Linked DNA regions of Homo sapiens: region 2 is linked to region 1. Evidence: fine-mapped expression QTL. Tissue or cell type: lung. Region 1 holds a variant in brackets; the other region holds the start of a gene. All regions are shown on one strand. Distances are from middle to middle.

The links. PIP is the estimated chance that this variant, and not a neighbour inherited with it, causes the effect.
Region 2: CPVL-AS2 starts here. The variant in region 1 is fine-mapped to the expression of CPVL-AS2 in lung (TOPMed, PIP above 0.99). The same link has a PIP of 0.9 or more in spinal cord.

What each region holds. Positions count from the first base shown.
Region 1 is chr7:28,993,125-28,998,508 of GRCh38, reverse strand. CPVL (carboxypeptidase vitellogenic like) reads left to right here. Exons shown (of 13, transcript NM_031311.5): 13 at 2,627-3,274. The coding sequence ends at 2,737. CPVL-AS2 (CPVL antisense RNA 2) reads right to left here. Exons shown (of 5, transcript NR_038965.1): 2 at 2,258-2,344. Among named protein-coding and RNA genes, the nearest start is that of CPVL-AS2, 16 kb to the right of the region's middle. The variant C/G (reference allele first, on the strand shown) is at 2,251.
Region 2 is chr7:28,976,770-28,982,153 of GRCh38, reverse strand. CPVL-AS2 (CPVL antisense RNA 2) reads right to left here and starts at 2,187. Exons shown (of 5, transcript NR_038965.1): 1 at 2,056-2,187.

The DNA.
Region 1 (5,384 bases):
TTGTAAAGTAAAGGAACCTGAGGCTCAGTGAGGTTAAGTTCCTTGCCCAAGGTCACACAACGTGCAGTGCCTCTTGCCATGCTCCTGCACTCTGACTTCTGAGCCCAGGCTGTGAAGCACTGTGCTATCCTTTGTTTGTCCTTTGTTAGCTGCAGCACTGGTTCTGGGGGCAGGATGACCTTTAGCTCTTGGGTATTCAATTTATTGGTGTTCCGGACCATTGCTGCCAAACTCATTTCCAGTTGAAGCAGCTGGGTTTTGTCACACATATGACTTTGTTAAGTGTCCTCAGCTGAGCTGAAGCTGCACAGAAATCACTCATCAGATTCCTGCCAGGGCCAAAGATATGGATGAAAATCTGCAGGAAGAAATGTCTAGCCTGGGATTGCGGGGCGGCAAAAGTTTCCCTCTGGAGTCCTATGAAGGGGTTCTTGTCACACATGTTTACTTTCAGTTTGTGATAAAAAGTGGGCATGCTGGGTTTCCAGTTGCAAGCTTCTACACAAATGGTAGATGGGTTTCACAGTCATTGCAGTGAGGCACAAATGACCATTGATCAACTGCAGCAAAACACAAAAGTTTCACATTTGCATGTGAAAGAGTTAAGTCTGGTCCCACATCTGCAAATGGGATCTGCCTCCCTCACTGTAATATGTGAAATACAAAAATACAGAAAATTATGTTTATATCTGCAATAATTTTTTTCATCAATAAACCTCAGAGGGCTATTGAGAGGTGAATAAAAATGTTCCGTGACTAAGCTGCAAATTTCAGTTCAAAGATAAGGAATGATTGAGTAGAGGGTTTGATTAAAAACACCACACCGGTGTTTGCATCAGAAGTCAGGGTTCTAGCTAGTTATCTCACTTAACAATTGTGTGACTTGGACAAGCCACTGAATAATTCCAAATAGCTCAGTCATCTCAATGCTCATGTGAATGGTGCTCCCTGTAGTTGTTCAGTGCACAGCTTGTATAGCTGCGAGCTGCAAGGTAAATATCATCTAATAGTGTTAATCCTACTTACTGCACGTCAAGGTTGTAAGATGGAGGGTGTTGGGATATAGGGGCAGATTTTCAATATAATAAATGTACTATCCAAATATACTTTTTCTGCCTCAGTTTCCTTCAGATTGAGACAAGTAGAAGAACCCAGCCTCTTAGGAAGGGCCTTGTGAAGGTGACCTTTAATTGCTGATCGTGATTCTGCAGCTAGAAGTTACTGAAAGTGATGTCCTTTTTGCATACGTTTATTCACTTCATGCACTGGTACCTCCTGTCCATTCTCCACATATGGAACGAGACATCTCAGGCCAGGCTGACCTCTCCTGCATGTAACTTCCCAACACTCAGTGTCAGTCCTTGCCCTTTTGGCACTGAATCATGACAGCTTCCCGTTTCCCTCTACTTGGAATATTAGCTGACGCTAGAGGCTTAACGAGTACAGAGACCAGTCCCCTTTTGCTGATTGGATCTCATCATTAGAGATGTTTTAGGAATGCTTTATATCACCCAACAAGGGCTTGGGTTACGTAGGTGTCTGCATTTGTCAGAACTGGTGAGTCTACACTTAAGACTAGCGCATTTCATTGTATCTTAACTTGACTCAAAAGAAGAAAATCTGTAAACACATGTTGAACTCTGATGAATAATGTGATGCTGAAGTGTGTGGGGGAAGTGCACTACATGCCCATTTTACTTTGAGATGTGTCAAAAATATAAGATGGATTAGTGGATGGGTGTGGGATGCATAGAGGCACCCTTATGTGAGAAAGCAAGTAAAGTGAAAGTTCATGACTCAAAATCGTCACTATATGAATTGTTTTCGAATTTGCTATGTTTTAAAATGTTTTATAATCCAATATTAGGAAAAAAAAGAATGTTCTAACTCTATGCTGCTCAAAACATGACTTTCTTTCATTTCAAGTGTCAAGTTTTTTGTTTTGTTTTTTTTTTTTTTGTTTTTTGGTTTTTTTTTTTAAGAGATGGGGTCTCATTCTGTCAACCAGGCTGGAGTGCAGTGCATGTGGCATGATCCTAGCTCACTGCAGACTCCAACTCCTGGGTTCAGGTCATCTTCCTGCCTCAGTCAAGGATGTTTTTGGTTTTTTAATTTTTTTGAGAACCAAAATTTCCCCTTCATTACTGATAAAGGCTAAAATGGAAGGTATGGCTCAGTGTGAGGGACAATTGGGCTGGCTAACTGAAGGGTGGAATTAAGTAGACAATCCACCCCATTGCAGGCAGACCT[C/G]ACATACCCCAGAAGTAGTGGGCTGGAGGTGGGCCTCACCAGGTAACACTTGCAGTGCAGCACTCTCAACTGCGGGGAGCAGGCAGATCACTCTCTAGAGGAAAAAGACAAGGAATAATTTTCAATTTTTACACTCATGAGAAAAGAATACAACTTTGCGTAAAATTAACTAAGCTTTAAAACTTTTCTACCTTAACATGCCTGTTACAAAAGCCATCAACAGCCAGATAGGCAGCTTGTCCAAAGGCATGCATTGGGAGAATATGTTCTGTATTTCATGTGAGTTTTAAATAGAGTTTAATCTGAATGAAAACTTTCCATGTATTTAGAATATCCATTTCTCTAAATTTCCGTTCTTTTACTTTTTCTTTTTAAGGTAATTATTCGAGGTGGAGGACATATTTTACCCTATGACCAGCCTCTGAGAGCTTTTGACATGATTAATCGATTCATTTATGGAAAAGGATGGGATCCTTATGTTGGATAAACTACCTTCCCAAAAGAGAACATCAGAGGTTTTCATTGCTGAAAAGAAAATCGTAAAAACAGAAAATGTCATAGGAATAAAAAAATTATCTTTTCATATCTGCAAGATTTTTTTCATCAATAAAAATTATCCTTGAAACAAGTGAGCTTTTGTTTTTGGGGGGAGATGTTTACTACAAAATTAACATGAGTACATGAGTAAGAATTACATTATTTAACTTAAAGGATGAAAGGTATGGATGATGTGACACTGAGACAAGATGTATAAATGAAATTTTAGGGTCTTGAATAGGAAGTTTTAATTTCTTCTAAGAGTAAGTGAAAAGTGCAGTTGTAACAAACAAAGCTGTAACATCTTTTTCTGCCAATAACAGAAGTTTGGCATGCCGTGAAGGTGTTTGGAAATATTATTGGATAAGAATAGCTCAATTATCCCAAATAAATGGATGAAGCTATAATAGTTTTGGGGAAAAGATTCTCAAATGTATAAAGTCTTAGAACAAAAGAATTCTTTGAAATAAAAATATTATATATAAAAGTAATGATGAGTCAATTCTTGATAAGCAGATGCTCTTATGCAGAGAACAAACTTAATCTTTGCCTTTTCATTTTCTTTTTCCTTCTTTGAGTTTGAGGTGTACACACTTCTGAAAGAGCCTGCAGGCTACATTAGTTATAAGAGCCATTTTAATTTGGGCTTCAAATTCTCTACTTCTTTTCCCCAAATAAAGAACAACCTAATTTTGTATCATTGTTAGAATATCAAAAAAAATTAAGATAAGCTGGCATCAATATATACATTTATAAATATACATTCATTAGCAGTTTTCTGACTAAAATGTCACATCCTGGCACATCTTTTCGATTTATGCATCATGTGCTCACATCTCTGAAATTCTACAAGACGTGTGGATTTTTCCACATCACTTCCTTCTCATATTACCCATCTATGAACTGGCTCACTGGAGAATTAAATTTAAAAAGTCAAAGCCTGTTCTTGCGGCAAATAGTTTATGGAGTTTATTCTTTTAATTTCTCATGTTGTGCCTGATTACGTTCAGGTTTGTGATCTTCCTTTTTAAATTGTTCATTGTACCCATGTCCTAGAAGTCATTAAATCAAATATTCTGATCAAAAGCAGATTTTAATTATTGCAGAGAATAAACTGGGACAGGGTAGGACGCAAGAAGTTTTTCATATAGCCCCATCTGCAAGTTAAATTAGCTGTATTTAGTCTCATAACTATGTACTGGAAAGGGCACTGACTGGCTGGGAGACCTGGGTTTAGTTTCATATGGATCACACATGCACTGGACGTTTTAGGAGAAGTCACTTCACCATACCAGCCTCCCAAAAACTCAAGGAAGGTAGCCAGAAGAGGAGACTTCTGAGGTTCTTTTGGGTTCACATGTCACTAGAGTAGTACCTATTTACAAGGGTACTATGAGATGATCCAGTTTATCCTCATTATTTCAAGAATTCCATGTTTGCAAATGGAGTCTACTTGCTAAAAAATGTATTTGTAACCCCAATATCAATACACTTGCTCTTTTGAGGTCATGTACAGAGTGGCAAAAAATTTCAGTTGCCCAACATATACATTCCCAGCTGGGGTCAAAGAAGGAGACGCTCTGCCTTCTTGTTTCAGCTTTCATACTGTAAAAAATCGTCTTTTTTTTTTTTTTTCTTATTAAGACGGAGTCTCGCTCTGTTGCCCAGGCTGGAGTGCAGTGGTGTGATCTCGGCTCACGGCAACCTCTGCTTCCCGGATTCAAGCAATTCTCTTGCCTCAGCCTCGCAAGTAGCTGGGATTACAGGTGCGCGCCACCAAGCCCAGCTAATTTTTATATTTTTGTAGAGATGGGGTTTTGCCATGTTGGTCAAGCTGGTCTTGAACTCCTGATCTCAGGTGATACTCCCACCTTGGCCTCCCAAAGTGCTGGGATTACAGGTGTGAACCACCACACCCAGCCCAATTGTCCTTTGCTAAGTCTGTTTAGTGCCACATTTTTTTCGCATTTTTGTGCTTTTTTTGTGGCTGATTTTGCTTTTTAAAATGGCCTCAAGCACGGTGCTGAAGTACTGACTAGTGTGCAAGAAGACTGTGAAGCGACTTACAGAGAAAATACAAGCAGGTATTTTGTTTTTTTCAGGCATGAGTTAAAGTGCTGTTGGCCCTGAGTTCCACGTTAATGAATCAACATTTTAAAGGTGACTAAGAAACACACTTAAGGTTATGTATTGATCAGGTGACAAGAATGTTGTGACCCACAAGCTTGAAGGAACCTAAACCTGTATTTGCCTTAGAAGCAATGGTTCAGAATTTGCTAATTCTGTCTGCATAGATGTTACAGAACATAGCTACAGTGGATAAAGAGAATTGATATCTTTCCAGAGCACTTAGCATAGGGAATAGCACAGGATAATGGCTCAATACATGGAAATTGTAGATGTTTTCATTTTTATCATCACCCTGACCCAGGTACTAGGCCAGTGGGGAGCGCTGAGGTGGCGGTGGGGGCAGAAGTTGGCAGACTTTCCAGGGGCAACCCTAGCCAACTCATTTGAGGATACAGTTCTATGAAGATTGAATCTGGCAAGTATTTTACTTTAGAAGAAGAAAGGAAAAGATTGAATCTGGCAAGTAT
Region 2 (5,384 bases), 16 kb after region 1:
TCACAACTTGCATGTGGAATTCCAGTGAAAAGAAAAGCAATACGCGTTAAGAAATCTCCAATGTGCCATTGAGGATTTAGGGATGAAGTTTCCATGTTCTTCCTGTTTTGATAGTTTTAAAAACCAGTTTTTGTTAACGGTGTATCTGATCCAGCTGTGAACTTATCTGTGAATGTGACTATCTAGAAAATTAGCAAATCAGTTACCATTTATCTTAGGTAATGCTGTTTCGTGTAGTAAATGATCAGTATAAACTATTTTTGTTCAATATTACAGTGAATATAAATGTTATATATAATCAATATAACATATAAGTACTAAAACCTTTTCCTTTACATGCCTTCTTTCTTTTTTCCACTGAGTACTTGAAAAAACAACTCTTGCACATCTTCTAGGATTCAGCCCCATGAACAGGAAATGTGATTTAACAGCACTTAAGCTTCTGAGAGTTAAATGAATCTGGCTATTGATTGCTTACCAGCATTAGGTGGGTTATCAGAAATGTATGCTGTTAATTTGGCTGGCAATGGGATTGACAGTATAACAGCACTACCACCGAAAGCAGCTTTGGTTTTAATCTCTAGAACTTTTGTACCAAAGCAGCTTGGATCTGCCAGGGATTTGTGTTTTAAAGGGATTATGTTAAAGATTATTAAAGTTGAACCCTCAAGGGACAAGGCTGGATATTCATGCTAGAAATGCAACTCCGGATCTCTACCGGCCAAGTCACTTCTGAATGTTTGAGGATTCCTGTCACACTCTAAGTTGCTATGAAAGTGTAGACTGGCTAAAGAAAAATCTTCCTTAGGAAAAGGCTGATTGGGAGTTGGCAAGGCAACTATAAACAGGACCCAGCCTTTCCCATTTTAGAACATTCAACGAGTCTAAGAGCTGGAAATGGAACGGCAGAATCATCTGAATACCTAAAAGTTAAGAAGATAGCAAAAGTGCACTTCATTAATTAAAGAAGATAAAATCAAGAAACAGAGTTGGGGGATGGAGCTAGCAAAGAGCTAAAGAGGCCTTCATTCTGTGGTCAGTGGAAGCAGTGTCAGATGGGTGAGATGGCCTGAGGCGGCCTCACGGGGCTGAGGGCGTTGAACAGGTCCAGGCAGTCCTCCAACCCTGAGCTGGACCAAAGGGACTGGCTGCACAGGCTGAATAAGAGGCACTGCCCACAAATCAATTAAAATATTTCATAATTAAGAAAAAAGCATTTCTAAAGCACAGTGCCCCAGGAAAGGAATTTGGAATAAGCCCAATAATAAAACAAACTGGACCTCTATTTGAGCTACTATCCTATGTGGAAGTGCTGGCTGTGTCATGAGCTCCTTCCTCAAGAGAAAACCTAAGACCTATGCAGGGCTCTTCCTAGACTGCCAGTAGGATGACACATTCAGGTGACATGAATCACAGAGGAGGGAGGTACTACCAACCCCCCTCCCAACATGACACATTTACATATTCAAAAGATGACAAAAAATCAAGCTCCGAGTGCTTGCAATTCATTTGGAAGAGATAAGGCTAGGACATAGCCGAACAATACTTCAAAATACTTATTAAGCAATAAATAACCAGCTGCAGTTGAACGCTCTCTAGATTCCACAGTCTAGTTTAATCCTATTTCAGCCATTTAGATTCCTGCATAAGAGCTCTGGCGCGTAAAATTCCAAGTGGGGTAAGACACAAAAATTTCCAAATATATGCCTTGATAATACTTTCCTGAAATGGAAATGTACTTACTACTCTTATTGATTAAAAGAGCAGATTGAGAGCAGTCTAAATATCCATTATTGGGTCTTCTCATATAAATATGATGTATTCCTGTTTTGTTTGTTTGTTTGTTTGGGTTTTTTTTTTTTTTTTTTTTTTTTTTTTGACTAGAGAATGAGGAAGCTCACTATGGACTGATATGGAAGGAACTATGTATCATTCAGTGCTCAAACACAAAAGTAGAAACCTCTCTATATATCTCAAGCAGAGTAGGATGGAACACAGGAAATTGGTTAAAAACTACTGGAAGGACTGAGGAGCAAAAAAAGAAGGGGCTCTTACCCAAAGAGGCTGGGAAGCTGCCACTGGCCCTTGGCTGAATCCTGTCAGGGATACTCAGTGTTGATCTTGCTGAAACTATCCCCGGATTGCTGGAGCCCAGAGCACAGGCAGTCCAGGCCAGCTGGGGAAAATGGCTAATCTCCTCCTCCCACACTGGAACCTAGCACCAGCGCCTCCCATGAAACCAGCTGGATGAGTGAGTCTGGGAAAGAGGATGGAGGATTATCCAGAAGGGTGGACTTGGACTTAAGAGTCAAGAGACACAATCCAGCACATCCACCCTTTTGCTACTCAGCATCCACACATTCCATTGTACGCACCCTACAGCAACATCACACTTCTTCCTCACAGAATGCAATTTTATTCCTCACACAGATGAACACAAGTTCACTCTCTCCCTAAAACAGATAATTCAGAGTAAAACCCTGTAAGATAGTGGCCTCAGCCACTGTATTCATCCCAGGGTGATGTTAAATTTTTTCCTTTCAGACACCATTGCACCTTTTATAATGGATGTTCTACAACCTAAAGGCTAAGTTGTAAAATTAACCACCAACACTCAGTGTTATGCAGAGTAAACAAAGAAGAAAATGTGCATAGCTGCTACGGGTTTTGTTTTGGTGACTGGTAACAAAACTAGTTGACTGATGATGATAATAGTTAAATAATAATTGAGAATGAACTTCTTCCAACGTCCATTCCATCTTCCTTTTACCTTCAGCCAGCAACTGAAGTTAGTTGTCTGGGGTTCTTTTCTTGGCAAGATTATTGAAACCTTCATTTTTGAAGGGTCTAAGTCTTTAGCTGTCCTGCAGGTTGCAATATTATTCCAGAAACTTTTACTCTTGGACATGGAAGTGCTAAGAGGCACCCAGGAGAATTTCCAGGGCTTCAGACATAGTCCTCTCTGCCACCATTGTGTGTCACGGCAACCCAATTACTCCCTGGTAATAATTCTGTTCAGTCACCCCAGCCAGAAAAGTAACCCTCTTCTTTGCCTGTCCATTTAGTGGCAGAAGAAACTTGAAATGGGCAGACAGAAGTATCGAATTCCAGTTCAGTGGAACGTTATTGTTTCCCCTAGAGGAAGCGTTCTCTCCTAGGAATCAAGACCTTTAAACCAGCTGATCTATGTTTTGTAGAAGGAGGGCAAATATTCTGTGAGTGATATTCAGGATGTGATAGTGAGAGTAGCCACTCTCATTTTTACCCCTTGACTCCCAGGTCTGTGTATCCTGACTATGAGAGACATAGCATCACTCATTTGCTGATTCAAAGCATAATCTACGTGCAGTAAGAAAGCCACCTAGACTGCAGGCAGTTATCTTCCAGATGGTACCATTTTTGAAACTTCAGTTATCTATTTCTAAATTTTGTAATGATAACTACCTTTGGGTGCTGGAGTACATGGTAATCCAATAAGTCCCATGGGCATGATACCAATGCTGTACTACTTTTGCTGTAAAATTAGTTCTTTGGTCACAAGCAAAGAACTTCTTTGGTCATAATCATCATGCTATTAAATAAGGCTCTGTGTTAAGTTCACAGATGGTGGTACTGATAAACCCACTGCAGGCAGTGAATGCACAGCATATTTAGAAATAGTGTCCCAGCCTGGGCAACATAGCGAGACCCTGTCTGAACAAAAAAATTTTTTTTAAAAAAGAGCTGGGCATGGTGGTGAGTGCCTGTAGTCCTAGCTACTTGGGAGGCTGTGGCAGGAGGATCACTTGAGCCCAGGAGTTCAAGGTTATAGTGAGCTATGATTGCACCACTGCACTCCAGCCTGGGTGACAGAGTGAGACCCTGTCTCTATTTAAAAAGAAAGAAAGAAAAAATAAATAGTGTCTATTCTAGAGGACAAAATCATGTCCTTCATAATAGAAGTTCCATGCAATAATCTGATGGCTGACTGGTCCCCCTGGGGAATGACTCCACATCAGAGACTCAGAGATGGTAGAGCCCCTGTCAGCAAGTTAGTCATTTATCAGTGACAGGAGCCAGACCAGTTTGATGAGGGGAAGTCCACATTGTTGAACTCATGTCTGGCTTCTCTCCCTGCCACAATGGCCATGCTCTTCATGAGCCTATTAAGCAAGCCTCGGGGTTGCTGGAAATGGACTGACTGACATCCACAGAACAGGCTATCCTGTCAGTGGACTGCTGAGGGCCTCATCAGTGGATGCCCTCTAATGAGAATTCATATGTGATAGTGCCCATAGGGAAAGGTCCATCTGCAAACCTTTTTCCTAGACTTCGTTGTCACCAGTATGCTAATAAAACCATTAATGACCCATCAATTGGTATATATCTCGACTTCTGGCCATCTCTCCCTCCAGATAACATGCTCAGTGTTTGGTCCTGAGAGAGCTCCTCTTACCACGTTCCTGATTTGGGCTGCAATGCTTCAGCAGTCCACATCTACCTGGTGCCTGCAAACTGCAAGGGACCATCTGCGAACCAGGCCCAAATGTTTTCTTAGTCTGTCAACAGTCAATCCTAAGAGGTCACAGATGTGGACTGATGGTGAATTAAAATTGCAGCAAGAATAGATGCTATGGAAGTCACAGCCACTTGCTCTTGAAACTTACTTGTGCCTGAAGGACCTGCTCAAACCGAACCTGGTATATACTATTTTACTACTTACACCTGATGATGGATTTCTGCCATGCATGCCTAACCTTATGGCTCAGAGGACTGGTGTATTAGTTGTCTGAGTTTCCTGAGTAATAAATTACCCCAAAACTTCACAACATGCATTTATCATCTTACATTGTTTCTGAGGGTCAGGAATCTGGGAACAGCACAGTTGGGAGAATCTGGCTGAGGGTCTCTCACGAGGCTGCAGTCCAGTTGTCAGCCAGTACTGTAGTCACCTTAAAGCTTAACTAGACCTGCTGTAGCCCAATGATTCTCACCTTAAAGCTTAACTAGACATGCTGTAGCCCAATGGTTCTCAAATGGGGGTGATTTTGCACCCCAGAAAATATTTGGCAATGTCTGCAGACATTTTCAGTTCTCAAAACTATGGGGAGTGATGCTACTAACATCTGGTAGGTGGAGGCCAGGCATGCTATTAAACATCCTGCAATGCACAGGCCCGCCCCACAGCAAAGAATTGCCTGTCCCGTAAATGTCAATAGTGCCAAGACTGAGAAACCCTGCTCTCTCTTGAGCCCTTTTTTGCACTGGTCCCTAGACAAAACTTGCAGCGTAGTAGGTAACTCACAACATTGCTCTGAACAATAGACTCTAAAAGTGTTTATGTTACCTCAAAAATAAAAAGACCCACAGAATATTATAGCTCTTCTTCGTGATAGGTGGTACAA